7 linked regions of the Homo sapiens genome follow. The protein of the gene in region 3 purifies or fractionates together with the protein of the main gene of each other region. This does not show direct contact. Each region holds a gene or a part of one and is shown on either strand. Other genes may lie near its edges.

Region 1 (3,764 bases), about 97 Mb from region 3:
CTCTGATCCTGGAATGCTCAGGGAGAGTGATTTGAGTGATAAAACTCCAGTCTTCTGCACAGCTGGCTCTGCATGAATAACTCTTTCTCTATTGCAATTCCCTTGTCTTGAATAAATTGGCTCTATCTAGGCAGAGGGCATGGTGAACCTGTTGGGTGATTACCTAATTCGACATATTCATACTCTTGAGTTCAAATTTATACATATTGTTAGGCTTTTATTAGTCAACTTTCACAACATATTAAGGATAGAAAGTTCTCTAAATCTTGGATAAAAGAGACAGAAGACACACAAAAGTTATACAGGCCAGGCACAATGGCTCACGCCCATAATCCCAACACTTCAGGAGGTTGACTCAGGAGAATCACTTGAGGCCAAGAGTTCAAGACCAACCTGGACAAAGCAAGACCCCATTTTTAGAAAAATTATTTTTTTGTTAATAAGTTATACAGTTGCCAAGGATTAAAAAGCAAATTAGTAGAAGAACTTTAGAAAGAAATCTAAGAAACTGATTATGGACTTCATCCACTGGACCTCACTTTCTCCCAGTAAACTGAAAAAATAACATTATTTTGAAAGCCAAAGACTGAGGAACAGAAACAGTTTTAAATGTCAAGAGGTCTTTATTGAAATAATAGCACAGTTACACTTCTAATACCCTTTCCACTTGTATACAACAGATGAAAAATGCTTGCTACATACAGTGCACAGACAGTTCAATAATGAGAACTAATACAACTGCATTTGAAATAAATAAAATAGCCTATTTAAATAATTTAAAGTAAAATTACTGTACAATATGAAAATAAAGATACATAAATGTTAGAATCTACAAAGCTGTAGAAATAAAATCATTATTCTGCATTACACAAAACAGTGCAAGAAAAAAATCCAAATAAGCTTTTGGAGTGCAAAGTTTAAATCTTCCATTTTAAATTATCATGCAGACATAGCATTTCAAGCCATGCTATGGTCTATGTCAAGGATTTTAATTTTTAAGGAGAAAAATGCCAGTAAATTTACTGTACCATCAAGTGTTGCATCACATAACTGCTGCTGCTCTGCTTCTACAGTTCAGTTTGGAAGGGAGGTATCCTGTTGCATTCAAAAAACTGAAGTTAACAAGTTTCTGAAGCAAACACATTTACCTTTTAGCCTGAAACAAAATTATATGACAAAATAATCATATCCCTGGGTTTAAGAAAAAAGGGCCTATACCATGTAGTAAACTAAGAAGCAGTTTTTCATTCATCTTTAAACTCCACAATGATCCTTAAGTGAAAGCAACCATGTAACTTTTGAGTGACATATATTATGGAATTCTGACCTCTAGAAGACAAGTGATAATACAATATGGGATCGTGAGAAGAGCAAAAGTAATTCTGAACACCTGGGAAGTTTAATCTGGGAGGAACTTGGTTGCATTACATTTAATAATATAGTTGAAGTATAATTCCATTTCAATGTGCATATAAAACTGTTATTTAGGCAAAGACCAAGGAATGCATTGAATACTAAACCGTAAACACATTGTCCATCCTGACTTGGAGTGCACACCAACAACTGAAGAGCTCTTCTGCAGACTTTGGCAACGAGACTACATATAGCAGGTCACAGCAGCACGAGCTCACATGGAAGACTGAAAGCACTGCGGAATAACACCACCCAACACCTCCTATCAGTGGGATACATGGTAATAAGGGGCCTCTTCGTGCTAAACCACTTTCCTGGACACTATGTTCTTCAGATTTGTAATTTTCACAACTCAGTAGTCTTAAGTCTCTGTGCTTTTGCTGCATAGACTGACATGCGGTGTGCTCTACCCATTGTAAGTCCAGAGGGTGACAGTTCTATCTGCAGAGGATGACAGGAAGGAAAGATCCTGGGTGTGCCATCTGCACTGAATCACTTTGTCCTTGTGCTCCCCCACCACCATGATAGGAAGCTGCTTGGTGAGGTCCCCTAAATTACAAAAGAGATGTTGATTTACAATGCAAAATAAGTATATGTATAGATTGTATAGACTTCCTGTTACTTTAAGACATTACAGTATAAAAAATCTTAAACTACATTAATATAATACATTGAAAGGTTTATACAGGGATAAATTACTACCTACCTAATTATGCTATTAGTATTTGCTAACATATACCCATACAGCAACATTTGACAAGTTGCCTCTCTCTCTCTCTCGGAAATTCTCTCAACTTGATTTCTCCCTGATTTCAGTGCCACTTCATCTTTTGCTAGTTTCCCTTTTCTTCTTGACGTAAAGCTTGGTGAATCCCAGGAGTCAACCCTCAGATTTCTTCTGTTCTCTCTGTACCTAACTTCCTAAAAAATTTCATCTAGCAACATGGCCATTTATATATTTACAATTCATACATATTTTATCTCCAATCTTGGTTCTCATCTGAGCTCCAGACTAGTATCCAAATAGTCATTCAATATCTCACTTGTCTGATAGTCATCCTAATTTAAACTTGTCTAAAACCAAACTCTTGGTTTTCTTGCCTAAACCTGTTCCTCCCCTTACCTGCCTCCCTTATCTCAATGGCACCATCTGGTTGCTCATGACAAAAACCTAGGAATCGTCATTGATTCCTTTTCCCCTCACTCCTCAAAGCTGATCCAAACAAAATATATCTCAAATTTAGTCATTTCTTACTACCTCCACCTCCACCACCCTAGTCCAAGCCACCATCATCTCACCTGAACTATTCCAACAGCCTCCTCACTGACATTTATATTTCTACTCTTGCCCCCTTACAATCTACTCTCCCTACAGAACCCCAAATTCTCCAAAAATATAATTCAGCTCCTATCCCTTCCAGTTAAAATCTTCCAAAGGCTTCACATTATACTTTTTAAAATGCTTATAGCCCACCAACTATAATAAATGTACCACTGTGGAAGGGGATACTGATAATGGGGGAGGCAGGCTATGCATGTGTGAGTCAGGAGTATATGGGAAATCTCCGTATCTCTCAATTTTGCTGTTAACCTATAACTGCTATTAAAAATAAAGCCCTTAAAAAAAATGTCTATAGGCCGGGCGCGGTGGCTCACGCCTGTAATCCCAGCACTTTGGGAGGCCAAGGCAGGCAGATCACGAGGTCAGGAGATCAAGACCATCAAGATCAAGGCTAACATGGTGAAACTCTGTCTCTACTAAAAATACAAAAAATTAGCCAGGTGTGGTGGCGGGCGCCTGTAGTTCCAGCTACTTGGGAGGCTGAGGCAGGAGAATGGCATGAACTGGGAGGTGGAGCTTGCAGTGAGCCGACATTGCACCACTGCGCTCCAGCCTGGGCGACAGAGCGAGACTCTGTCTCAGAAAAAAAAAAAAAAAAAGTCTATAAAACCCTGCCTCTGATTTATTCTTCTGTGTCTCTCTCTCTTAGTTCACTAAGTTCCAGGCACATTGGCTTCCTGTAGTGTCATGAACGTGCTAAGCTGGTTCCTACTTCAGCATCTTTATACTTGCTGTGCTCTTCTCCTAATATCCTGGCCTGGCTTGTTCCTCCTCATCATTCTGGTCTCTATGCAAATGGCATTTCCTTGGAGAGACCTACTCCAATTATCCTATTTAAAATAGCCTTCCCCCTGCAGTGAGCCAAGATGCACCACTGCACTCCAGCCTGGGCAACAGAACAAGACTCTGTCTCAAAATAAATAAATAAATAGCCTTCCCCTATTCACCCTAGTCACTATCTCCCTACCATACTAATTTTTTAAACAGCACAAATACCTAAAATTACATT
Region 2 (4,069 bases), on a different chromosome or scaffold from region 3:
CTCTGCATTTCTTGCTCTGGTTTTTAGCCTGCTTGAATCTTTTTCATCTTTTCCCACAAACCTCTTTCTTCTGCCCTAACTCCGGGTAGGGAGTGGAAAAAGATTACCATTTTTCCTGCACTGATACATAGCAACCACTGGTAAGCAAAATTGACTGGGATTCTGCAAGTTCAGCAACACCGAATCTCCAAACACGAAACAAGCAGGAACTGCAGCGCCCATGGGCAGCACATTCCTCCTGCCCCAGCAGCTGTCAGCAGGCTGTCCCGACAGTCTCGGAGAAGGACAAAGCGGCAGCCAGCTCCCTGCCTGCTGCTGAAGATGCACCTTCTGGCAGGTGATCACACCCGTCCATCACTGCAGCAAATGCGTGATGGGTTTTTTTTTTTTTTGAACAACTGTGGAAATGTTTTGCAAAATCTGGAATACTAAGTCTGCAACACCCTGCAATGCCCTTGCCTTGTAATCTTAGAATAACGGCCTCTTTGATCCATATGTGGACTGGAGCTCTTGAGGGGAGTGCCTGAGCTGAGGCAGGGGTTCAGAACCTTGGTGCCAGCAATAAGAAAGGCACTAAATCATGGAGGCGATGTTGAAAAGAGAGAAAAATCGAGAGCACCATCGGGGCCCAGGCCAATGCTTAACCTACATTCCACAGAGAACAATGCAACACATACTTAGATGATTACTGAGACACAGTTGGGCAGTTAAGTTTACCAGAAAAGAGTTGAGATACAAACCTTATTGTTAACAATAGCTTCTGAGTCATCAAAGACAAAGTCTCCATCATAGCTGCGTGCAAAACACACAATGGCAACCGATCCCACTACTAACTTAGCCCAGAATGGAGGAAGAACAGAAGATGGAAGAATGTGATCCAAATCAGTGTCCAACACGGCCATTCTGAAAACTGCAGGTTGGTGGCTCCCGGCTCCAGCATTATGCTGGTTAGGAATCTGCAGGAAAAACAACACTGTATAAATATTCATCAACACTGGTAGGACCGTTTCTGCAGTGGGCACCGTGAGTAAGAGCTAGATAGTCATTTATGCTATGATTTTATAGGATGTGATCAGTAACAATTTGAAGCTGTGCTTCCCAAACTTTAGTGGGCAGAAAAGTCACATGGGACACATGCAGATTCCTGGGTCCGACCACAGGATCTATCAAATCAGATGCCCTTTGGTTTCTGATGCCAGAATATCGTTTAGAAATACGAATGTAATGGTATCCTCATCAACCCCACAAGGCAAATCATTTTTAATCGTCCTTGAACCAGTTTACAAAGCTTAAAAAAAAAGTTACCATCCTACCTCATCCAATCCAGAAAAATTAATAAATAGTCATTGTTGGGTTTTAGCACACTGTGTGTGTGGCAGGGGAGAGGGTCGTGTGTAAAACACAACCCTGCTTCTGAAAGAGCTTATGGTCTATTTGTAGCATTCAGGCACACAGGCCAGGGAGCTGAGACTCTGACACAGAGACAGGGGAGTCGAACAGAGAAATCCTAAGGCGGGGCACAGGATCGAATGCTGGGTTCCTAGGCTACTGGCTCAACACAGAGGACAGATAGAGGAAATGACTGGTGGGGACAATATCTTGTCCCAGAAAAGGCTGAGCCATACAAAGGAAAGGAAGGGAGGCTATTCTGTGTGAGGATATGACCTTCAATCCTGGTGAAAGAGTCAAGATAAAAATATATCCTATTTTGAACTTTTCTTTCAAATGGGCATAATGTTTCTCGCCGGGGATGCCTGTGCCTCATCCTTGCCATGTGTTAGTTGTGCGGTCCTGTGCACAACCCCTTTCCTCTCTGAGCCCACCCCCTGCGGCCCTCTGCAAAGCATCTTAACGCCCAGTGGTCAGCGGTGCCTAACAGCTTCCCGCCTTGGAATTCGCCAAAACAAATCTCAACCTACCCCCAAACTCGCACTTTTTTATCTGTCCCCATTCCCACCACATCCTGGACAGGTGCTTTCTTTGGATTTACCAGGATCAGGTTTGGGTAAGACTGCTCGGTTCTGACCTGGGGTACCTCTGGCAACTTACTTGACCTCTCTGGGCCTGTTTCCTCAACACTAAAATGGGGATGGTAAGAGTGCCTACCTTCTAGAGTTGTCATGAGGGTTAAATAGGATTCCCAGCACTGCCTGGCTGTAATGAAGGCTCAGGGGAGGCCGGCTACTATTACTAATACTTTCTTCCAGAAGGCTGAAAGCAGAGGCACAGAATGATTTTCTGTGGGAAATCCCTTTTAGTAGCTGGTTGATTGGTACCGAGGCTCCTGTCTTTACTAAGGGACCTGGACCCTGTTCTTTTCCTGCTGAGATGAAAGAGAATTCCAGCCCCCTGATTGGGAAGGCAGTTTGGATGTATTTGTTTCTGGATCTCTAAGTGGATACCCCAGATTATGGAATCAATAAGAAGCCAGCCAAATAGGCCACCTGAAGTCACAGGCATCTTTCTATAGCCTTCTGTCTGAGTGAAGATGGAGACAGATCCAACAGGCAACGGGACACACCATTCCATGGTGATGCTGTCCCCTTCCAGGGGCCAGAAGGAGGCTCAGATTTACAATCCAGAGATGAAACAGGCCGCAACTCTTCCACTGCTTGTCTCTCGAGCCTCACAGCCTGGCATACGGCATGCTCTCAGCAAGTGCTGGGGGAATACTGCAGCTACTTTTCTTTTCCAGTCAAAGGATAAACCACTTCTCGAATCTAAATTACAACTGCAAACACAACACAGGTTAGCACACAGACCCCAACCTCTATGCTTACATTTCAGCTAAAGAAATTACTCCTGCTACTTAAAAAACAACAAATCAAGGCTGGTTGCAATGGCTCACGCCTGTAATCCCAGCACTTTGGGAGGCCGAGGCCGGTGGATGGCTTGAGCCCAGAGGTTCGAGACCAGCCTGGGCAACAAGGTGAAACCCCGTGTCTACAAAAAAAAATACAAAAATTAGCTGAGTGTGGAGGCGTATGCCTGCAGTCCCAGCTACTCAGGAGACTGAGAGGTGCGAGTATTGCTTGAGCCCAGGAGTTCCAGGCTGCAGTGAGCTGAGATCACACCTCGGCTCTACAGCATGGGCAACAGAGTGAGACCCTGTCTCAAACAACAACAAAGCCCAACAAAGCCAAATACTGAATAGTTAGGAAGATACTATGATTTAACATGGGGAGAAATTTTAGAAAATTAAATGTGAAGGAAAACAAATAATTTATAGCAATTTTAAATGCACAATAGAGTCATGAGCTGACAAAAGGTCATGTAACCGGTTTTGACGTTATCTGTTTTATTGTTTCAATAGTGAATTTATTGGCTCATGCAATATATTTTTGGAGATGGCGTCTTGCTATGTTGCCCAGACTAGCTTCAACTTTTGGGCACAAGTAACCCTCCTGCCTCGGTCTCCCAAGTAGCTGGGACTATAGGAGTGTGCCACTGAGCCTGGATATTATCTGCTTCAGGCTCAAATATTTGAAAATTATTTCACAAACGTTTGTCAAGGTTCAAATGGCCTTCTAAGTAGAATACTAAATCAGGAAATACTTTGTGCTCCTAAATTAGCGACTGTACCTCAGATTGCTTAGAACATAAACGTGTTCTAAGCAATATGTTCTAAGCATAATCATGTTCCAAGCCACAGCCCCAGGATATATAAGGCAGACTGTGGACCACACCATCAACGAGATGCCCTGGTAGGAGGCCAGGTCCAGACTCTTGGGAAGTCAAGTGGATGGCTGACTCAGTGGATCTCAGATGATCTCCTCCTCTGCTCTTGCAGGGACAGCAGGAAACCTGGCCTACCTCCAACGCCCCTGCCCCTACATCATTTCCCAGTTCTGGCTGGCTCTCCCCTCCTTGCTGTGACTCCCCTGCTTCTCTATCTCAGGGGGCTCCTTCTCCTTTCTCCAAGGCCTCCCACTTCTTTGCTGCCACTGAAAATACTCACAAATGCTCTTTTCTTTGAAGGGATTTACTGTTAACGTACATAGTGGAACAGTTTGGAAAATGCCTTTCACTAGCAAACGCAAAAAAAAAAAAAAAAAAGCTACAATTTGTT
Region 3 (4,069 bases):
GCAGGGAGGTTGCAGTGAGCCGAGATGGCAGCAGTATAGTCCAGCTTTGGCTTGGCGTGAGAGGGAGACGGTGGAAAGAGAGGGAGAGGGAGACCATGGGGAGAGGGAGAGGGAGAGGGAGAGGCAGAAAAATCTTTTTAAAACACAAGCCATGCTTGAAACTTGCCGTTTTCCAAGCCCCCTCCTAATAGTGAAGAACCCTGACTCTCCCCACATCTTTGCTGTGATCCTTGCAACCCCCCAGTTCCATTCCAGACACATTCATCTCCTCGCTTTTCTTTGACCATGTCAGGTACACGTCTACCTCAGGGCCTTTGCACTGCCATTCCTCCTGCCTGAAATACTCTTTCCCTATTTATCATCAGGTGTCACATTCTTACCTTTCTTTTAGGTCAAATGTCAGTAAGGCCTTCCCTGAACACCTGATACAAACTAGCAACCCACTCTTACCTCTTACAAGGAAGTGTAGGGTAGGGAATGCTTGCTTTATTTCCCCGTAGCACATCCCACCATCTGACATTTTGTGTGTTTATGTGTTTCTTTGTTCGTTCTAGAAGGTAAGCTCTGTGAGGACAAGGCTTTGTCTGTTGGGATCACTGCTGTATTCCCAGGACCTAGATCACGGAAGTGCTTAATGACTACTTGTGAATGACGAAAAGAAGGAGTAAATCAATTGTAAAGTTCCAGTCATCTACCACAGTTCCCACGGGAGCTGTTCCTGGCCAGTGGTGACACACAGCCCACTTCCCGCTTGGCACTCCTCCCCCGTCCCCTTTCTCAGGTGGCCCCCATGCTTCCTGGGAGCTCACCAAGTTCCTCAGTAAGAAGCACTTCCCAGGCACCTGCAGCCCCCCTATGCCTCCTCCTCCACATCTGGCATATTGTCCAGCAGTTGTATTGTGCAGACACACGAGGCAGTCAGCCATGCACGTGATCACAGATACAAGCATGACTCCTAAGTTGACACCCATGGGGTGTTAACTCCTGACAGGGTAAGACTGGAGAGACAAAAGCAGCTGGACCTGAAATGGTCTGAATCCCCCTCCTCGGCCCTTTTGCCTCAGGAGGGGCAGGAGCTCAGAGGGCTTCCTTGTTGGCCAGGCTGTCTCAGGAGCCTGCCTCTGGGGCTGGGGGTGATCTGGACGAGCATGTCCTGTGTTTCTTGTATGTCACTCCTTTCTATTAGAACAGTACTTTGATTCTAATAAATCAGAAGAAATGTCTAGCCATCCACCTCCATCAGAATATGTTTTACGTTTTATTTTTATTTATTTACTTTTTTTAGAGATGGAGTCTCACTCTGTTGCCAGGCTGGAGTGCAGCGGTGTGATCTTGGCTCACTGCAACTTCCGCCCCCTGGGTTCAAGTGATTCTCCTGCCTCAGCCTTCCAAGTAGCTGGGATTACAGGCATGCACCACCACACCTGGCTAATTTTTGTATCTTTAGTAGAGACGGGGTTTCACCATGTTGGCCAGGATGGTCTTGATCTCTTGACCTGGTGATCTGCCTGCCTCAGCCTCCCAAAGTGCTGGGATACAGGTGTGAGCCACCGTGCCTGGCCTATGTATTTTTTTTTTTTTAAACACACACATAAATCTAAAGCAAAGGGTATGCCAAGATTCAGCTGGGGCCAGGTCTGACCCCCACTCTGAGCATCTCATTAGCTTCCCATCAGTGGAATACAATGGAGACATATTCCACTTGGTCTGGCAATGTCCTCCTGGGGTGATGAAAAGGGGGCATGTTGGTGTAGACAGCAAAGTCGTCCTCCTTCTGGGGAGCCAGGTTGATCACGTTGGAATATATGGCATCAGCATGGCAGGAAAGATCCTTTAGAGATAGAACCCTGGTTAGAGGCAGATGGCTGGGCACCAGGGACTTCCAAAGACAAAACAAGGCATTGGGCTGTCCCTACAGGACAGCAAGTAGAATGCTGAGTTCTTGCTGCACAAGCCCTAGATCTCAGTTTTCATAGGCATTTCCTCCAGATCTGCCCCCCGCCTCCTCCCACCACCCTCTGTGTGGGGTCTAGGTAAGGAAGCAGCCAGAAGGCCAGGATCCCCCTCTCTACATGCGACTGGACTAGTTCCTTACCGAGGACTTGTGGGGAAAGTTGGTCTGATGCCTCAGTTGTTTCTTAAATAGTCCTAGAAAAATGGATAAACTCAGAGTCAGTCTGAGTTGGGTTAATAACCATCTTTACTTGGTTGTTTGCTGGGTTTAGGGCTTAACTTTGAAATGCAAAATCCACCACACTCAGCCCATTGGGCCTCTGAGACTAAGTTAAATTCCCAGGAAGACACAGGGGAAATGAGTACGCTTTATAATTTATAATTTTGTTTATTATTTAGAAGAGATTATTTGGCATCAGTATTTCTTTTAGCTGAGGCATATAGGCCATAAGCATATATGCAGATGGCTTATACTATATATAGCTTTCAGCATGAAGAACTTGTGTGATGAGTAATTCTTATTGCTGTGTACAGAGTCCCCAGCAAGTCTAGAGAAGAGGTCTTATCTTCATATCTCCTTCATATTACCCTCCCACTACCCGCTCCCCTCCCCGACAAGACTGCCCCATAGGAAAAACACCCCAATCTCTGCCCCCAGTTTCTCCTCTCTTCATTCCCAGTTCCAGGGCCAGCTTGTTCAACTCACTCTCTTGCCTCCATTTCTTCAGGGTCATGGACAAGAGACCCACCAGGAGCAAGATGAGGGACACCACAGCAATGGAGCCAGAAAGGGCTGTGGCTGCTGTGCTTAGGCTGAAGGAAGCAACTAAGAGACATGAGGACCATCCAGCTGCTCTGGCTGGCTTTGGTGACCCTCCACAAAAGTGCCCTGGGGCCTCCTCACCCATGTAGAAGCTCTCCCACTTCCAGGCTTCACCTCCTTAGTGGCCAACCATCTCCTGCCTCCATTTTAGCCCCTCTTTTCAGCTCTAGCCTCCATCACCATGGCCCCCACTCACACCAATCCCCACAGATCCTTCCCCAGGAGCCCACCTTCCTCCTTCATGGATCCAGCCCTTCTCTCACCCACCTGCTGAGTCCTGCAGTGTTAGTCTCTGGCTTCAGGGTGGTGATGTTCTCTGCATAAGGGGAAGGAGAGGAAAGTAATACGAAGGAGATAGGAAGGTAATTCTTGCACACCTATGCAAATGAGCTCTACAGAATCCTAAATGGTAATATTAGCTACTGTTTATTGTGAACTTAGTATATATTGGGCACATTCATTATCTTGTTTAATCTTCATATATAGACCTGAGATAGGAACAATCATTATTCCTATTATACAGTAAAGAAAAACAGTTCTTGAGGATCACACTTGCTCAGGGTCATAGGGCTGGTAAGTGGCAGAGTTTGGACATAAACCTCCATCTCTCTGACTTTAAGTCGTGTGTTCATACACAGTATATTCTGCTGCCTCCATGTGATTGTTTCACTCCAGAGCTCTACCATTCTTACCAAGGGTTAGCAGATATGACAGGAGGTCCAGAAAAAGAGATAACCAGGATGTGCAGTGCTAGGTACCTGGGGGAGGGCATGTGAGAGGGGTTGACAGGATCAGGACATAAGCAAGGCCAGTAGAGCTACGGCTAGGAAGAGGTGGCAGGCGTGGGAGCCTGCCCATGCTCTGGTGGGGAAGGGGAGAATTATTCACACCAGGAAAGAATTTCTCCTGCCTCGAGGGATGGAGACACAAAGTCCATCCCCTCTCCAGCCACATTCTGTCCATAGATTCTCAGAGCTAAAAGGAATCTTAAACCCTCCCATTGTATAGGTGAGGAATCTCAGGGGAAGGCACTTGCCTGAGGCAAGTGCTGTAGCCAGGACTGGAGTCAGGCATTTTGACTCCAAACCCAAAGCTCTCTTTATCTGCATTCAGTCTCCTTCCTGTTTCTTCCCCATAAAGTGAAGCTGCATGATTCAGCCCTATAGCAGATAGCACCCCTCAGGCCACATGTCTTGGGGAGCTGGCTGTGCAATGCAGAGACTGTGGCCAAGGTGGGGTGGGGGGAACCCATTGGATCACTAAGGCAATTTACTAGCCACCTTGGATAAATAG
Region 4 (4,069 bases), on a different chromosome or scaffold from region 3:
GCCGAGAGTGCGCCACTGCACTCCAGCCTGGGAGACAAAGTGAGACTCTGCCTCAAAAAAAAAAAAACAAAACTATGAGCTGAACCCAAATTCTAGAGGAATGCTAAAAGATACTGGACTTCCAAAAAGCCAGTGTGGCAAGACCTTACCGAAGACACAAAGACACAAAACTCCAACTGAAGCCCTGGAGAGGCCACACGCCTTGGGCTGCTCTATCCCTGGAGCTTCTCTAGAGGTGCTGGAGAGCTGCCCAAACAAAGCTTAGAAACAAGCTTCAAACAGACCAAGCTGACGCACAAGCTCATTACCTACCTGCGAGAATAAAACCCAAGACTCTAAGCTTAAAGAAAGACAACACAGGCAGGGCACAGTGGCTCCCGCCTGTAAGCCCAGCACTTCGGGAGGCCGAGGAGGGAGAATCGCTTGACCCAAGGAGTGTGAGAACAGCTTGGGCAACATGGCAAGACCCCATCTTTATATATATTTTTAAGTTATGTTTCAAGATTTAAAAGAAAAGATGGACATAATGGTTTATCAGATGGGGAATCTCTACAATAAAAAGCGTTAAATTCATTAGATGGGGCCGGGTGTGGTGGCTCATGCCTGTAATCCCAGCACTTTAGGAGGCCAAGGTGAGAGGACTGCTTGAGCCCAGGAGTTTGAGACCTGCCTGGGTGACATAGGGAGACCCCATCTCTACAAAAAAAAAAAAAAAAAAAAAAAAAAAGTAGCCGGCACGTGGCCCACGCCAGTAGTCTTGGCAACTCAAGAGGCTGAATGAAGCAGGATGATTGTTTGAGCCTGGGAGGTTCGGGCTGCAGTGAGCCATGACTGTGCCACTGCACTCCAGCCTGGGCAACAGAGCAAGACCCTGTCTCAAGAAATTAAAAAAAAATTCATTTGATGGGCTTCAGTATATTAAAAACAAGAAAGAAAAGAGTAGTGAACTTGAAGACAAGCCAACAGAAATCATCCAAAATGAATTGCAAAGATAAAGACTGAGAAAAAACAAACAGAGCTTCAGCAACGTATGGGACAATAAAGTTCCAGAAGGAAAGGGAGAGATCATGCAGAAAAAGTAATTTATAGAAGCAATGGCTTGAAATGTATTAAATTTGACAAAAATGATCATCCCACAGACCCAGAAGTTTAAAGAGCCCCAAGCAGGACGAAAGCAAAAACCACAATGGTCAAATTGCTGAAGCCAAAATTAAATGCAAAATCTTAAGGCAGAGAATCAAAGGGTGCCATTATACACAGTTTATAAGGATAAGAATCAACACCAACTTCTAAGCAGAAACAATACAGGCCAGAAAACAAAGTAATATCTTTTTTTTTTTTTTTTTTGAGGCAGAGTCTCACTCATGTCGCCCAGGCTGCAGTGCAGTGGCGCGATCTCAGCTCAGTGCAGCCTCCACCTCCCGGGTTGAAGCGATTCTCCTGCCTCAGCCTCCTGAGTAGCTGGGATTACAGGCACCCGCCACCATGCTCAGCTCATTTTTATATTTTAGTAGAGACGGGGTTTCACCATATTTGCCAGGCTGGTCTCGAACTCCTGACCTCAGGTTATCCACCTGCCTCAGCCTCCCAAAGTGCTGGGATGACAGGCGTGAGCCGCTGCGCCCAGCCTAGTAATGAGATCTTTTAAAGTGACATCAGTTTAACTGCTGAATTAAAAAAAAAAAAAAAAAAAAGAAGCAGCTGTCAACCTAGAAATGCATATCCAGAGAAAATGCCCTTTGCAAAATAAAGGCACCAAGATGTTTTCAGATAAACAAAAGCTGAGGGGATTTGTGACTGGCAGCTCTGCATTACAAGAAATATTAAAAATTCTTCAGGCTGAAGAGAAATAATAACCAGACCAGATTATACTGAAAGAATGAAGAATGTTATAAATGGCAAAAATAGAAGACTTTTTCCTTCTTTCTTAATTTCCTTAAAACAAAGTTGACTATTTAAAACAAAAACAGGGCCGGGCACGGTGGCTCACGCCTGTAATCCCAGCACTTTGCAAGGCCAAGGCGGGCGGATCACCTGAGGTCAGGAGTTTGAGACTAGCCTGGCCAACACAGTGAAACCCCGTCTCTACTAAAAATACAAAAAAAATTTAGCCGGGCATGATGGTGGGTGCCTCTAATCCCAGCTACTTGGGAGGCTGAGACAGGAGAATCACCTGAACTCAGAGGCAGAGGTTGCAGTGAACCGAGATCGCACCACCGCTCTCCAGCCTGGGTGACTGAGGGAGACTCCATCTCTCAAAAAAAAAAAAAAAAAAAAAAAAAAAACCATACTGGGTGTTTATGTCATACGTAAAAATAAAATGTGTGACAGTAACAGGACAGGAAAGGCATGAATGGACACACACTGCCGTAAGGCTCTTCTGGTGTCAACAGGGTGATGTAATTTCAAGTCAGATGATTATAGCCCCCAGCAACCCCTGAAACACAACACAGAGATGTACAGCTCAACTCACAGTAGACAGAATACTAAAAACACTTGTTTTTTAAAAAAAGAAAAGAAAGAAAGGAAAAAAAATCAAAGGGACAAAGAGAAAACAAAGAGCAAGATGACAGACTTAAACCCAGCCACATCAATAGTAACAGTAAATTAAAATGGGCTAAAAATTCCAATTAAAAAAACCCATTAGACTGGATAACAAGAAGACCCAACTACATCTACATTCTGTGTACAAGAAACTCACCTTAAACATAAACACACAGACCAGTAAAAAATACAAGAAAACAACAGAGCAAGCTGACACTGGTCATGACAAAGCTGAGTGACTCTGTTAGCACCAATGAGACCGCGTCAACTTTAAGACAATGAGCATCGCTAGAGAGAAAAAGGGACTGCTGTCTGTGCTTTGTGGGTCACCTCCATCACAAACCATGACTCCCGTACTCCCCCAAACCCTGTGCCCCATGCTAAGTCACTGAAATAAATGACTCATTTAAGCCTCACAACTTCCCTGTAAGGCAGGAATCAGCATTTCCACTTTCTGCACAAGGAACCAGAAGCTCTAAGATGCTTAGATAACTAGGCCAGGCACGGTGGCTCACGCCTGTAATCCCAGCACTTTGGGAGGCCGAGGCAGGTGGATCACGAGGTCAGGAGATCGAGACCATCCTGGCTAACACGGTAAAACCCCGTCTCCACTAAAAATACAAAAAATTAGCTGGGCGTGGTGGTGGGCACCTGTAGTCCCAGCTACTCGAGAGGCTGAGGCAGGAGAATGGTGTGAACCCGGGAGACGGAGCTTGCAGTGAGCGGAGATCGCGCCACTACACTCCAGCCTGGGCGACAGAGCGAGACTCCATCTCAAAATAAAAAAAAAAAGATAACCTCTAAGGCCACACAGCCAACAGTGGGGAGCTGAGTGCAGGTCCCCCCGTGGCCTAGGTCCAAGGTCCACACTCCTCTGCCTGCTCAGTCCCACAGAGACTCCGGGATGGCCCCAAAAGGTAGCACCACGCGCAGGACACTGCCTCAGGCCTTACACACCAACCCAGCCACCACCCAATCGCAGTCTCCTTTCTCCCTCCCAGGCATCTCTGCCTTGTTCAGTCCAGGCCCACCAGGGATGGCACAGTGAGGGGTAAGAGAGGCCTCAATGTCAACCCCAAGCTCTCAGGGCAAGAACCCAGAGCTGCTCACGTTAGGTGGGGCAGGCGGTCTGGCAGAGGGAGTAAAACACTGTCGTCTCTAAGGGCTGACTCCTCAACAGGTGCCTGAGCTGCTCAAAGCCAGGTCAGGGAAAACACACGTGCTCAGAGTGGAGGCTGTGTACTGAGACCTGAGGGTCTCTGATGACGGCCCTCCTGTCACTGTCTGGAAGCACCCACTGAGTGGTGCGGGGCCCTGGGGAGCCACAGCCACCCCAGGCCAGTAGGCAGTTCACATGGTGGGGAGACGGCAGGGCCACACCAACCCCCAGGGGTAACCGGACTTACGTGCATGTACGAGTGTACACACACACGCACGACCCTGGTGTCTGAGCGAGAGGAGGGGGGTGCCAGGCCAGACCCTGCTCTGGGATCACACGCACCTCCAGCAGGCGTGAGATGGCGTC
Region 5 (4,069 bases), on a different chromosome or scaffold from region 3:
GAATCAAAGTAGGTACAACTGTACATTATACAAGATATATAATATCCTATGCTAGTTTAACAAAACCAGCATATGAAAATAAAGCACTGAGCAATATCTTTGTAATATAGCAAGAATGCTCTCAAACTAAAATGTGAAATAAAATTTGTTTTAACCTCACAAGTCAACTTGATTTTCACAGGGCATCCACAGTTTTCAAAGTATTAAAATATTCTTCAAATTTTTCTTGTATGACAAAAAAACTAAAATGACCCTCCTGTTTCTGCTCCAAACAAGCACCAAGAAAAAAAGTGCAAAGACACAGTGGTATGTCTCTTAGTTCAATTTTTGTTTCCTGGAATTAGCAAATTAAAGGGCTAAATGACAACAACAAAAAATTCAAAGGTGTATATTCCCAGGACCTATATAAATAGTAAATAGAATTAAAATGGCTAATATCAGAAGCAATAATTCTTGAAAGAATTATGGACAGGCAGTACATTTTGGGCAATCTTAAACATAAAACTACGGACTGGCAAAATAATTAGGAGGTTGAATGTTTTTAAATTAAAAGTTCAGGACAGCATTCCTTGAAATCACAGGAACCCATATCCACTAAGAACATGACTCAGTTTGCCAAAAATTATTTCATATATACTTTTCATTGGGATATTTTGCAATGCAGATTGCATTTATGTAATTTATATATAGACATTTTTCAATGAATTGAAGAGAAAAGATAGCAAAAGGAGAAGGAGAAGAGAAAGCCAAAAGGAGAAGTCAGCTGAAATACCAGACTTGCTCCCGCCAGCTATGCCCACAGGAAGGTGAGTGGGCCCTTTTGACCAGACAAATGAACAAAAAGACAGCATATAAATAACCAGGTTCATTAGGTCAGCGGTAGCTACAGTCTAAGTTTGTATGTTGGAAAGAATTCAGCAAATAGATATAATAGATTCAGCATGAGCAGTACCTGAAATGTACCTTAAATACTTTCCCATCTTAAAACTCATCATTATTGGTACATTTCATGCTCTAAATGATAAATTCTGCCTGTCCTACTTCCCTTTTAGGCTTTAGGGAAATAAATATTTTATTGGATGTTCATATAATGGTTTCAGACAGAAAATGGTAGGAGTTACTACTGTAAGCAGTTGCTACTGTAAGCAGATATCTGTAACTACTACCCAAAAAACATTATCGAATGTTCAATGTTCCATATTCCAGCTGGACCCAAGAATACAGTATCCTAAGCAAAATGAACCAGAGTGTACTTACCAAGCATCATACTCAAAGAGAATATATCAGTTTTATTTAGACTTTTTGTATCACTGAACACTCCAAGGAATACATAGAGAATTGACTTTCAAATATTCGGATTCCTATGCAGTTTTTCCATAGGGCAAACTCTTAACATTCTCTCCATATTCTCAAAGCCTCAATGAGCTACACACCTTACCTACAGGACGAGACCTCGAACAACATGGATTCTAAGGAAAATGTCCAATTATTGAGTAAAAAATAATTGAGGAACTGAGTAATAAGATTCCAGACAAGTAAAAAGGAAGTCAGTCTGCATCTTGGCCTGTGACCCTCTCTTGACAAAATTCACAGACCACTAACTATGATAAGGCCTCAAGCAGAAAGAGTGAGGACAGCCTATTTTAATTTGAAGGGTAAGGTAAAGGTACCAGCGCTTAGATCTGGTTTGATGGCCTCTGACAGAAGAGATTTAAAAGTCTGGATATCCAGTAACGTCACTTAGTGTCTGACCCCATGTTCAGATCTGTAATCCTTAACAGGCTAATTCCAAACAGGCCCCTGACAAGACCTCTAATTCTATTTAAATATACAAATCTATACCATCATTCCACAGCTTACCACCTTTTTAATTAAAAAGAGGAAAATAAAACCAAACAATAAATATGAAATGAGTTCACTGTCTGGTTATAAACACATGTGGAATATTTTATATTCTCATCTTTTGTCAGCTATTATCCTGTTAATGTATAACACAATAAATAGTGGAAGAAACTTTCTTAATAAAAGCATCACTACTTAGCCTGTCATTCTCTAGTAACTTCCTCAGCTTAACAGAATCATTGTGTGGGAGGCAGTGAGGGAAGATATCCTGTGTGAACTCAGTGAAGAAAGACCTCTCAGAATGGAGTACTCTACAGAGATAATTACAGCTTTGGGAAAATGTGCTCAGAATAAAGCCAAAGGGCTGGAATTCATCAGATTAAGAGAAAGTGGAAAGCAACTTAGTGATACACAACCTTATGTATTATGGCGATTCAATTTTATTTGCTTTTTTCCCATCTCCAAAACAAATACCAAACAAGATTTTAAGTGAGAAAAGGTAGAAAAGGTAAGATGAAGACATAGGTAAGCTAGCACACAAATGTAGGCCAGAAGGTTTATATGCTTGTTGGAGGTGGGCCACAAATCTTGCACTGAGATTTCAAGAAACCAAAAGTTAAATGGTAAAACTCCTAGGTACTATTTATAATGTCCAGAAGACACAAACAAGTTCAAAAGAACTATGTCTGTTATTGAAACATAAGGTCTCTCACCCTGTCTCTGTCTCTTTCTCTTTCTCATTTTCTCATGGCATAATATCTTGGGGAGCAGACACCGTGAAATGTATTGCAGAATATCCTCATCTGCTTCCCTGTAACAGCTCCCACAGCAAGATTTTTTATTATTTTACTTTTTGAGACAGGGTCACACTCTGTTGGCCAGGCTGGAATGCAGTGGTGTAATCACAGCTCATTGCAGCCCTGACCTCCTGGGTTCAAGTGATCCTCCCACCTCAGCCTACCAAGTAGCTGGGACTACAGGTGTGCACCACCATGAACAGCTAATTAAAAACAAAACAAAACAAAACAAAAAAACTGTAGAGATGAGGTCTCTTCCCTATGTTGCCCAGGCTGGTCTCCAAATCGTGGACTCAAGCAATCCCCCTGTCTCGGCCTCCCAAAGTGTTGGGATTACAGGTGTGAGCCACTGAACCTCACCTCAAAACAAGTTTTATGAGAATTTTTTTTTTTTTGAGATGAAGTCTTGCTCTGTCGCCCAGCTGGAGTGCAGTGGCGCAATCTCAACCTCCACCTCCCGGGTCAAGCGATTCTCCTGCCTCAGCCTCCTGAGTAGCTGGGACTACAGGTGCATGCCACCATGCCTGGCTAATTTTTTTTATTTTTAGGGAAGACGGGGTTTCACCATGTTGGCCAGGATGGTCTTGATCTCCTGACCTCTTGATCTACCCACCTCCACCTCCCAAAAAAGTGCTGGGATCACAGGTGTGAGCCACCACGCCCAGCCGAGACAATATTTTTACAGCCTCCTTCATTATAGTTTAGTGACATGAGGCCTAAAACAGTTTAATTCAAAAAGAATCCCACAAAGAACCAAAATTATTTAATAGTCTTCATCTTCAGTGAAATGAAACACCACCACCACCATATATGTATGCATATGTACATATATATGTATATCATATTTTAAGATATTAAATTAAAAGCATAAGTAAACATCCCAGCACTTTGGGAGGCTGAGGTGGGTTGATCACGAGGTCAGGAGATCGAGACCATCCTGGCTAACACAGTGAAACCCCGTCTCTACTAAAAAATACAAAAAATTAGCTGGGCGTGGTGGCGGGTGCCTGTAGTCCCAGCTACTTGGGAAGCTGAGGCAGGAGAATGGCGTGAACCTGGGAGGCGGTGCTTGCAGTGAGCTGAGATCGCGCCACTGCACTCCAGACTGGGAGAAACAGCGAGACTCTGTCTCAAAAAAAAAAAGTAAGTAAACATCCAGAAAGAAACTAGCAGTATAGGAAAATAGTGGAATAAACTTTTTGAAAGTCCTATCTATCAACAGAAGGCTTAATGTAAATAACTGATATTAAAATAGGCAAAGTGCCTAAAAAAGACATTTCTCCAAAGAAGACAAAAAAAATGGCCAACAGGCATATGACATGGTCCTCAACATCACTAATCATTAGGGAAATACAAATCAAAATCACAATAAGGTATCATCTCACACCTACTAATATTAAGATGGCTATTGTCAAAAAGACAATAGATAG
Region 6 (4,069 bases), on a different chromosome or scaffold from region 3:
AAAGTCACAGTACTGACTGGCTCTTCTCTTACTACTAAAAGTGCCTCTGAATTTGGGGGTATTTGTTATAGAATCTGTAGCTGTCACTAAAATAATTTCTTAGAATCAGATATTTTAGATTCTTGTCTAGTTTACTGCTATCAGCTCAAACTTTGTTGGTCATATGTAGAGGGGAGGAAGGGTGAGACTCTGGGGAATAACCCATCTCCAGGGCTAACACTCAGACCTCGGGTGATATTTGTTACTACAAGTTGAACATTCCTAATCCAAAAATCTGAAATGCTCCAGAATCCAAAACATTGTGGGCACCGACACGATGCTACAAGTGGAAAATTCCACATGACCGATGGTCACAGTCAAAATGCAGTCAAAACTTTGTTCCATGTGCAAAATTATTAAAAATATACTATAAAATTACCTCCAGGCTATGTGTATAAGGTATCTATGAAACATAAATGAATTTCGTGTTTCAACTTGGGTTCCCAGCTCAAGAGATCTCACTGTGTACATGCAAATACAGAAAAATATCAACAAATCTGAAATCTGAAACACTTCTGGTCCCAAGCACTTCAGATGAAGGATCCTCAACCGCAGGCGCCCTTGCTTGTTTTGTATAATAGTACTGCTGGGATTCAGGAAGCACACATCTTTATGTTGAAAGGAAAAGGAAATAAAAGCAAGCCAAAGCCAGTGCTCCTGCCTCACCCATCAAAGGAGCACTGTTTTACCTGGTTGGTAGAAATCAGGTGACAGCTCCCTGGCCACAGCTCTCGCGATGTCGCACTCCTGGCGAGCGGCCAGCGCGGCCTGGTCGGCGGCATCGGCCTTCGCTCTGGCATGTGCAGTCCTACACGGGGCACAAAAGGACGAGTCAGCATAGGTGACCCCTTGTTACTTACACAGGGACAAGCAAATTGTAATCTGGGAAAAGAAATGTTAATTATGATTATGGCCCGACACCCACAAGAGCAAAAATTTTAGAGTCCTATTGCCGTGAAATTTCAATGAAGATGACATAGATGAAACTAAACTACCCATGAATTGCCTTAGCCCTTCTCTCAAGGGAAATGAAAAGTAAGAGCAAGGTCTGTGTAGCTTGATGCTAAGTGTGGTTTTCAAAACTTACTGGATCAAATCTCCTGTTGACTTTGGTTGGCATTCCTCCCCCCCACCTAAAATTATGGAAAGTAGAATTAGAACATATAAATTAATAGTGTTTATCAAATTCATTTCTACGGTACAATCAATGTAAGAATTTGACTAAGAAAGATCTGCCCACTGGCATGCTGGTGAAGTAGCTCTTTGAAGAAAAAAATTAGTGAAATGGGGATTGGTAGTGTTTATTCATATCCATGTGTAAATGTTCTCACCGTGGCCAATTTCAGGCTACCAGCATAATGCCGTTGGATGTGCAGTGGGGAGATGTGCACTATTGGTGCTCACCAGCAGGAGCAAACCACAAGGCCCGCTCTAAGAACATGCTCAGAAGGGTTCCTGAGGAGCCCATTTAGCTGACTTTTAGGCATGTTTCTTGTATGAACCAAAAAGGAGACAGCGAGGCAGAACTGGCAAGGATGAAATGGATCTTTCAGTCTTCCATCGCCTCCCTGGCCTGTCCTCACTCATGGAAACCTCTCATCTTTCTGGAGGACTAGGGTTATGCGGAAAGTGGCAGGAAAAAGAATAGGGCTTCTTATGGCTGCACCAGGGAATGATGTCTACTGGCCCCAGAGAGGGTTGGAGGGAAGAAAAAAACTCTGGTTTATCTGCTCTGCAAAGGGAAAGGCCTTGTCCCGTTAGTCTTTAGATGTTTATGGGTACCTATTTCTTATGACTTTGTAAATTTTCTATTATATTTTATTAGCACTAGGCAGGGCTATAAATAACTAGCAGTGAAAACTTAATGGAAGTCTGAAAAAGGTGCTTACACTTATGTTGGAGACAGCAGGAGAGAGGAGGAGTTGGGAAAAGGCATGGGCTTTGGATGCTCTTCAGGGAGAACACACGGGCAGCAGCTGGAGGAGGCTGGCAGGCGGAGCTCCTGGGACCAAAACACGGAGGCACCGGGCCTGGCCTGAGACAAGGGGGTCTACTGGTAGGAGGCCCCCTTTTCACATTACTCTCTTCAATAACCTCCTCTTGTCCTGTGCTCTCACGGGACTCCTTTCACTTCTATTTAGGATCTAAGCAAGCCTGAAGGCTTGATGTATTAGAATGTAAGCTTTGTGAAGATTGGAATTTTTAATTTTTGGTCCTCTGTCATAATCCCAAAGTGCAGAACGCTACATTGGCACATACTATTTATTGAGGGACCACTTTATGAATAAAGGAATGAATGATGCTTCCTTAGGAAAAGCTGGGTAGTTCTTAAAACTGAATGGAATGACAAAACCATAGAGACAGTAAAAAGATTCAGAGTTGCTAAGAGTTCGGGGTGTAGTAGGGAAGAATGAATTGGTGGAAAGGAGGGCATATCTGGGGGAGTTTAATTATTCTGCATGATACTGTAGTGGGGGACATTACATATTTGTCAAAATCTATAGACTGTACAACACAAACAGTGAATGAAGCCTGATGTAAACTATGGACTTTAATACTAATATATTAATACCGGTTCATCAATTACACCAAACGCACCTCAAAATGCAAGATGTTAATAATAGGGGATATTGTGTGTGTGCATGAGGAGAGGAGGTGTATGGGAACTTTGCAGTTCCTGTTCAATTTTTCTGATAACTTAAAACTGCTCTAAAAAATAAAGTCATTAAAAATGAGTGGATCAACTTCGAATCATCAAAACTGCTATTTCTAAACCATGGAGGATGCTTTAGATTATTTGTGTATGGGGTATCAAGAAATATGAAATGGAAATAACATCAAGAGGGGAGGGACATATTCTTAAACAACTGGCTGTTGGAATAACCCCTCATGGGTGCCATTGCTGAGGTACGATGGGTAATGCCTTAGTCCTGTGTGTTGTGCCTGATAATCAACAGATGCCCTCCGCTAATGTTCTTTCAGTTTCTCAGAATCTAAACTTTTTTCCCCCAAATGATTTTCCATTTTGTCCGCTATTCTTAGCCAGAGCCTAATTATGTCTAGGTGTCATAATTAATGAAGCCATAAGAGTATAGCTATGCTGCTTTATAATACTATCTATTAGCCCTTTAATGATAAATTTACAAAACTCAAGTACAAGTAACTTATTCGGATTCAATCACGACACACCACCATACAGTCAAATAAAACAGCAGTAGTATATCTACCACTTTTTATAATATGCTAAACTAGAGAATAGACAAATACAGCTTAACCTTTCTGCAAATATATTTTGGAAGCACAGCATCAGTGAAGCCTGCTAGTACTTAACCCTTTACTTTTTTACTTGCTGTTTCCTATAAGACCACACAGCAAAGGAGGACCTTTCTATCCAGCCCAGCTCTGTGGCTCAGTGCTACTGTATAGCTGGCCAGATGAGTCAAGACCACATTCAAACCTGAATCCTGAAGTCTGCTCAAGAGCTTTTGGAACCGATGACAAGAAGGAAGAACAGAAACCCACTCTGAGTTTGCTGTTAACACCAGCCTGTACAGCTAAGGCCACTGGCATGTCTAGATTTTGCCCAGGAATAATCTGGACTTGTCTCTGGCTCATGTTAGTGAATTCATGTGATCACATCCCAGGCTCAGTTCCAGAGTGACACACGACCCCTGTAATCAGTCAATTGCGATTGTTCTTGCGTTGGGGGGTGGGATTCAGGTTAGGCAGTCTGGAGAGATAAGCTGAAACCACTCAAACTGGATGCCCTGATGCTATTGCTGGTCACAGGCAAAAAATGCATACACCAAAGGGGAATACGTGCCCCAAAAGCATTTCATTTATCAAAAGACTGTGACATTTTACAAATCTTCAGACCCTCAAGAATCTCCAAATACCATTATCACAAATACTTTCTCCCATCAAATGCAGTAAAAAGTAACTGAAAAGCGACTTCTTTAAATTAAGCATCAGCTGTTGACTTTCTTTTAGGGCTATATATTTTTAACAAATAAACCGAATTTTTAACTTG
Region 7 (4,069 bases), on a different chromosome or scaffold from region 3:
CCACTGGGATATTAGCGGGAGTGAAGGTAGGTCCTCTGAAATCTTGTTTGCTTCAGCCCCTAGAAATCAGGAGGAGTGGACAGAAAGGATGTCAGATGCAGATTTAAACTGACAGGTCCTTCTTATGCAAAGCACAAAGCAACAATTTTGCTTCTTAAGATTTGTGTTAAATACCAATAAATGCTAAGATGTGATTAGCCTGAGAGTAATGCGTTTTCTGATGCATTATGGTTATGTCTAAACTTTCTGATTTATGACTGTCTAGCTTACAGGAACTGGTGGCTTTGAAGAATCTCTTACCTTGCTGGGAGTCAATAGCTCAATTAAAATTTTTCAGGCGGGGCGTGGTGGCTCACGCCTGTAATCCCAGCACTTCGGGAGGCCGAGGCGGGTGGATCACAAGATCAAGAGATGGAGACCATCCTGGCCAACGTGGTGAAACCCCGTCTCTACTAAAAATACAAAAAATTAGCTGGGCATGGTGGCAGGTGCCTCTAATCCCAGATACTCAGGAGGCTGAGGCAGGAGAATTGCTTGAACCCGGGAGGCAGAGGTTGCAGTGAGCCGAGATTGTGCCATTGCACTCCAGCCTGGGCGACAGAGCAAGACTCTGCCTCAAAAAAAAAAAAAAGAAAAAAATTTTAAAAATTCATTACCCTGAAATTTTGTTTCAAAGATTTTTAGTGTACCATTTCTTGGGTATTATTTAGGTTATATGGGGATTTGAGCCAACCGTCTTTTAAGGAAATAAATATGATGTTTGGTAGTTCGGAGCTATGGTCTAGCCATGTGAACAGCGGACACTGCCATCCACCCTCTCCCCTCCTGAATTTCATTTCACTTTTTTTTTTTGAACTTTATTTTACTCTTAAGATGTCGCACGCGGCCACAAGCGCCTTATGCCGCTCCATAAAGCTGCAGTGTGAGCTGTACCCCTCGCGGCAGATCGCCATCTGCCTCGACCCCTACTGTGGCCTTGGTTTTGCCCTGTGGTGTCTGTGCAGGTGAGTGCAGGGCCCCTGCTGCCTGCCAGGTGGGAGCAGCTCGTGTGGCTCTTAGGAACCTTGGCCTTCTAAGGCACCTTTTCTGGGTGCTCAGGAAGCCGATGAGATGTGTGTGAGTGGGTTTGTTTGGGGATGAAGTGGGTTGGAGTCTGAGTCTGAAATTGAGTGAAAATACATTTTTCATTAAATACACTGTCCGTTATCAGTACTTGGGAAGAATCTGCTTGATTCCTTCAAACACTAGAAAGTGGCGATCCGTCTCTAGAAGTGAATGCCTCTGGAGTGGTGTCCCCGGATCCTCTCCAAGTGTTCGGAGCAGAGCTCAGAACCCCGTGCCTGCCATCCCCCAACCTTCACCCTGTGGCATGTTTTCCACCAAACCCCCCCACTTGGCGTCAGAACAGAAATCATGCCCCTGTTGTGGCTGGAAAAGAAGTGTTCTTGAGGAAGGGAAGAGTGGAGTGCCCAGGGTGCTGGGTGGGCGGGCGGAGCCTCACGAGCCTTCCCTCTCGCAGTGTCTACTCGGGACACCAATCAGTGCTGGTGCCCCCGCTGGAGCTGGAGAGCAACGTGTCCCTGTGGCTGTCGGCCGTCAGCCAGTACAAGGCCCGCGTCACCTTCTGCTCCTACTCTGTGATGGAGATGTGCACCAAGGGCCTAGGCGCACAGACGGGTGTCCTCAGGGTGAGTGCCCAGACCCGGGCTTCTGAGTGTGCTGCAGACCACAGCCCTGGGAAGTTTAAAAACAACAAAACAAAACAAGACTCCCAAGGCCCCTCCCTGCAGTTGGAGGAAGTAGAGAAAACCCTTTCCCACTAGGGGCCCTATGTACACATCTGTCCTCCCACGGCCCACCTGTCTCTGCAGCTCCACACCCCGCAGGAGAGGAGGGTGGGGGGTAGGGCAGGGTCCCTGCGAGATAGCGGGGTGGAAGTCTGGCCGCGTGGGAGGGCAGGTGTGGGATGCAGGTCAGATGGGAATCGTTTAGCGCATCCACACGTAGGATTCTGTGGAACAGACACAGCCTGCGGAGAGGAGGTTGGTGTCCAGCTCCACCTCTGTGTGCCCACCCGGAGATTTCCCAAAACAGTGCCCAGGGCCCTGGCAACTCACTGAGCTGTGGCCGTGGCCTGACCGCTCACCCCTCCCGCAGATGAAGGGGGTGAACCTGTCATGTGTGCGCACGTGCATGGTGGTCGCCGAGGAGCGGCCCAGGATTGCGCTGACCCAGTCCTTCTCCAAGCTCTTCAAGGACCTGGGCCTGCCGGCCCGCGCCGTAAGCACCACGTTCGGGTGCAGGGTCAACGTGGCCATCTGCCTCCAGGTGAGGTGCCTGGGGCTGCGGTTCTCGAAAGCTGGCTGTTGGCAGCATGGAGACCCAGTTTCCCAGTTGTTAATGTGCCGTTTTGTAGCCGCCTGATCTATTTCTCCTTCTCTGGGCCTTTGATATCTCATTTCCATGTAACATTTTAGCTTCAAGGGTTTTATTTTTAAAGATGTTCTATTCTAGTTGGAGAAAGGCTTATTTGGAAAAAAAACACATTGTTTTTGAACAGTGACTAATAACTGTAAGACTCTCTAAGTTAGATATAAAACACAGCTAAGTTCTTAAAGCAAGATTGAACTTACTGTTTTAAGATATCTAGCAATATTAAATTGAAACATTAATAAATGTGGTAATTTGTGTTGACTCAAATTCATTTCTGAAACCATGAAATGTCTTATTAAAAGGAAGCACCAAGTTTCAGGCCAGGAGTGGTGGCTCATGCCTATAATCCCAGCACTTTGGGAGGCTGAGGCAGGCGGATTACCTGAGGTCAGGAATTCGAGACCAGCCTGGACAATATGATGAGACCCCGTCTCTACTAAAAATACAAAAATTAGCTGGCTGGTGGTGCGCGCCTGTTGTCCCGGCTACTTGGGAGGTTGAGGCACAAGAATCGCTTGAACCTGGCAAGAGGAGGTTGCAGCGAGCCAAGATCTCACCACTGCACTCCAGCCTGGGTGACAGAGCGAGACCCTGTCTCAAAAAAAAAAAAAAAAAAAAAAAAAAAACATAGGTAGCACCAAGTTTCAGAGATTGAAGAGCTCACGGCAGTTCTGTTTATTGCTTCCTCAGATAGCTACAGCTGTTGCCCAGATTTTGTACTAGTATCTCAATTTCATTTCTTTCTAAAAACATCTTAAAACCAAATGGCTTTTTAGATAACCCTACATATTGAACGCCTTATTCACCCACATAGTACAAGAATAGCTGGAAGGAAATGGCACCTGTCCGTGCCAGAGCAGGGCTGAGTGCAGGTCTGTCTCTGTTTCCAAAGTGTTTGCTTGGCCTTGTGCCTCCCCATCACAGTGGCAGTGCACGCAGGGCAGGGCGGGGGCTCTGCTCACACCCTCTTCACCACAAAAAGACCCCTGACCACTCAAGCCTCAGACCCTTGTCACGCAGCAGAGGAGATCGGGCGGGAGCCTTTTGTGAGCTCGCTTCCTGTGTAGGCTGTGGCTGAGCGTGGGTGCCGGCCTTTGTGTTAGCGGCTCTGCGTCTGCAAGCCTGGGGCCTCCTTGCTAGACGTCGGAAGGGTATGGATGCCACACATGATTGCAGAAATGATGTTAATGGGATGTTCACGTTTGCTCTTTAAGATACAGAGGTGGGTTTTGCTCTCTCTTTCCCTGTGTTTCTCATGTGGCTGCTGCTTCTGTGTGTGTTTCCTGTGGCTGTCTCCTCCCTGTCTCACTCTGCTGCCTCCTTGGCCTCTGTCAGCCCAACAGGCTGGGAAAGCTGGCTGAGCAGGTATGACCTTGACCTTGACCTTGTTGGTGCCTCTGTGCTTCCCCCTCCCATGAGTTCATGTGACTTTCTCGTGAATTCTAGACAAACATGTTTCTTTTGCTGTCTTACTTTGTTCACAGTGGATATTACTTGACATATTACAAAAGCTCCCTTGTAACCAAATTTAAAAGTAAAACTATTTTCAAAAAATGTTAATGCTCATAGCATTGCCTTGGGAGGAAGGGCTGTGTTTAGTTCCAGTGCAGAGGTGTTTAATTCCAGTGCAGACACA

The links.
Region 1: the proteins of RHEX (region 3) and WDR47 purify together in Homo sapiens (affinity purification with mass spectrometry; 3 studies listed by BioGRID and IntAct, with this or other methods). This does not show direct contact.
Region 2: the proteins of RHEX (region 3) and TMTC4 purify together in Homo sapiens (affinity purification with mass spectrometry; 3 studies listed by BioGRID and IntAct, with this or other methods). This does not show direct contact.
Region 4: the proteins of RHEX (region 3) and SBF1 purify together in Homo sapiens (affinity purification with mass spectrometry; 3 studies listed by BioGRID and IntAct, with this or other methods). This does not show direct contact.
Region 5: the proteins of RHEX (region 3) and PLXDC2 purify together in Homo sapiens (affinity purification with mass spectrometry; 3 studies listed by BioGRID and IntAct, with this or other methods). This does not show direct contact.
Region 6: the proteins of RHEX (region 3) and JPH1 purify together in Homo sapiens (affinity purification with mass spectrometry; 3 studies listed by BioGRID and IntAct, with this or other methods). This does not show direct contact.
Region 7: the proteins of RHEX (region 3) and DIP2A purify together in Homo sapiens (affinity purification with mass spectrometry; 3 studies listed by BioGRID and IntAct, with this or other methods). This does not show direct contact.

Annotation. Positions count from the first base shown.
Region 1 is NC_000001.11:108,969,611-108,973,374, forward strand, and holds the end of WDR47 (WD repeat-containing protein 47), read right to left. Parts: intron 1,963-3,764; coding exon 1,820-1,962; 3' UTR 604-1,819; downstream 1-603.
Region 2 is NC_000013.11:100,667,839-100,671,907, forward strand, and holds part of TMTC4 (protein O-mannosyl-transferase TMTC4), read right to left. Parts: intron 2,732-4,069; 5' UTR 2,525-2,731; coding exon 2,522-2,524; exon of another isoform or gene 2,445-2,521; intron 957-2,444; coding exon 741-956; intron 1-740. UniProt on the Homo sapiens protein: Transfers mannosyl residues to the hydroxyl group of serine or threonine residues.
Region 3 is NC_000001.11:206,059,424-206,063,492, reverse strand, and holds part of RHEX (regulator of hemoglobinization and erythroid cell expansion protein), read right to left. Parts: intron 1-4,069. UniProt on the Homo sapiens protein: Acts as a signaling transduction factor of the EPO-EPOR signaling pathway promoting erythroid cell differentiation.
Region 4 is NC_000022.11:50,450,467-50,454,535, forward strand, and holds part of SBF1 (myotubularin-related protein 5), read right to left. Parts: coding exon 4,046-4,069; intron 1-4,045. UniProt on the Homo sapiens protein: Acts as an adapter for the phosphatase MTMR2 to regulate MTMR2 catalytic activity and subcellular location. Promotes the exchange of GDP to GTP, converting inactive GDP-bound Rab proteins into their active GTP-bound form.
Region 5 is NC_000010.11:19,822,636-19,826,704, reverse strand, and holds part of PLXDC2 (plexin domain-containing protein 2 isoform 1 precursor), read right to left. Parts: intron 1-4,069. UniProt on the Homo sapiens protein: May play a role in tumor angiogenesis.
Region 6 is NC_000008.11:74,258,657-74,262,725, forward strand, and holds part of JPH1 (junctophilin-1), read right to left. Parts: intron 848-4,069; coding exon 729-847; intron 1-728. UniProt on the Homo sapiens protein: Junctophilins contribute to the formation of junctional membrane complexes (JMCs) which link the plasma membrane with the endoplasmic or sarcoplasmic reticulum in excitable cells.
Region 7 is NC_000021.9:46,556,066-46,560,134, forward strand, and holds part of DIP2A (disco-interacting protein 2 homolog A), read left to right. Parts: coding exon 1-26; intron 27-337; coding exon of another isoform or gene 338-364; exon of another isoform or gene 365-773; intron 774-873; coding exon 874-1,004; intron 1,005-1,519; coding exon 1,520-1,688; intron 1,689-2,157; coding exon 2,158-2,328; intron 2,329-3,768; coding exon of another isoform or gene 3,769-3,798; intron 3,799-4,069. UniProt on the Homo sapiens protein: Catalyzes the de novo synthesis of acetyl-CoA in vitro. Promotes acetylation of CTTN, possibly by providing the acetyl donor, ensuring correct dendritic spine morphology and synaptic transmission.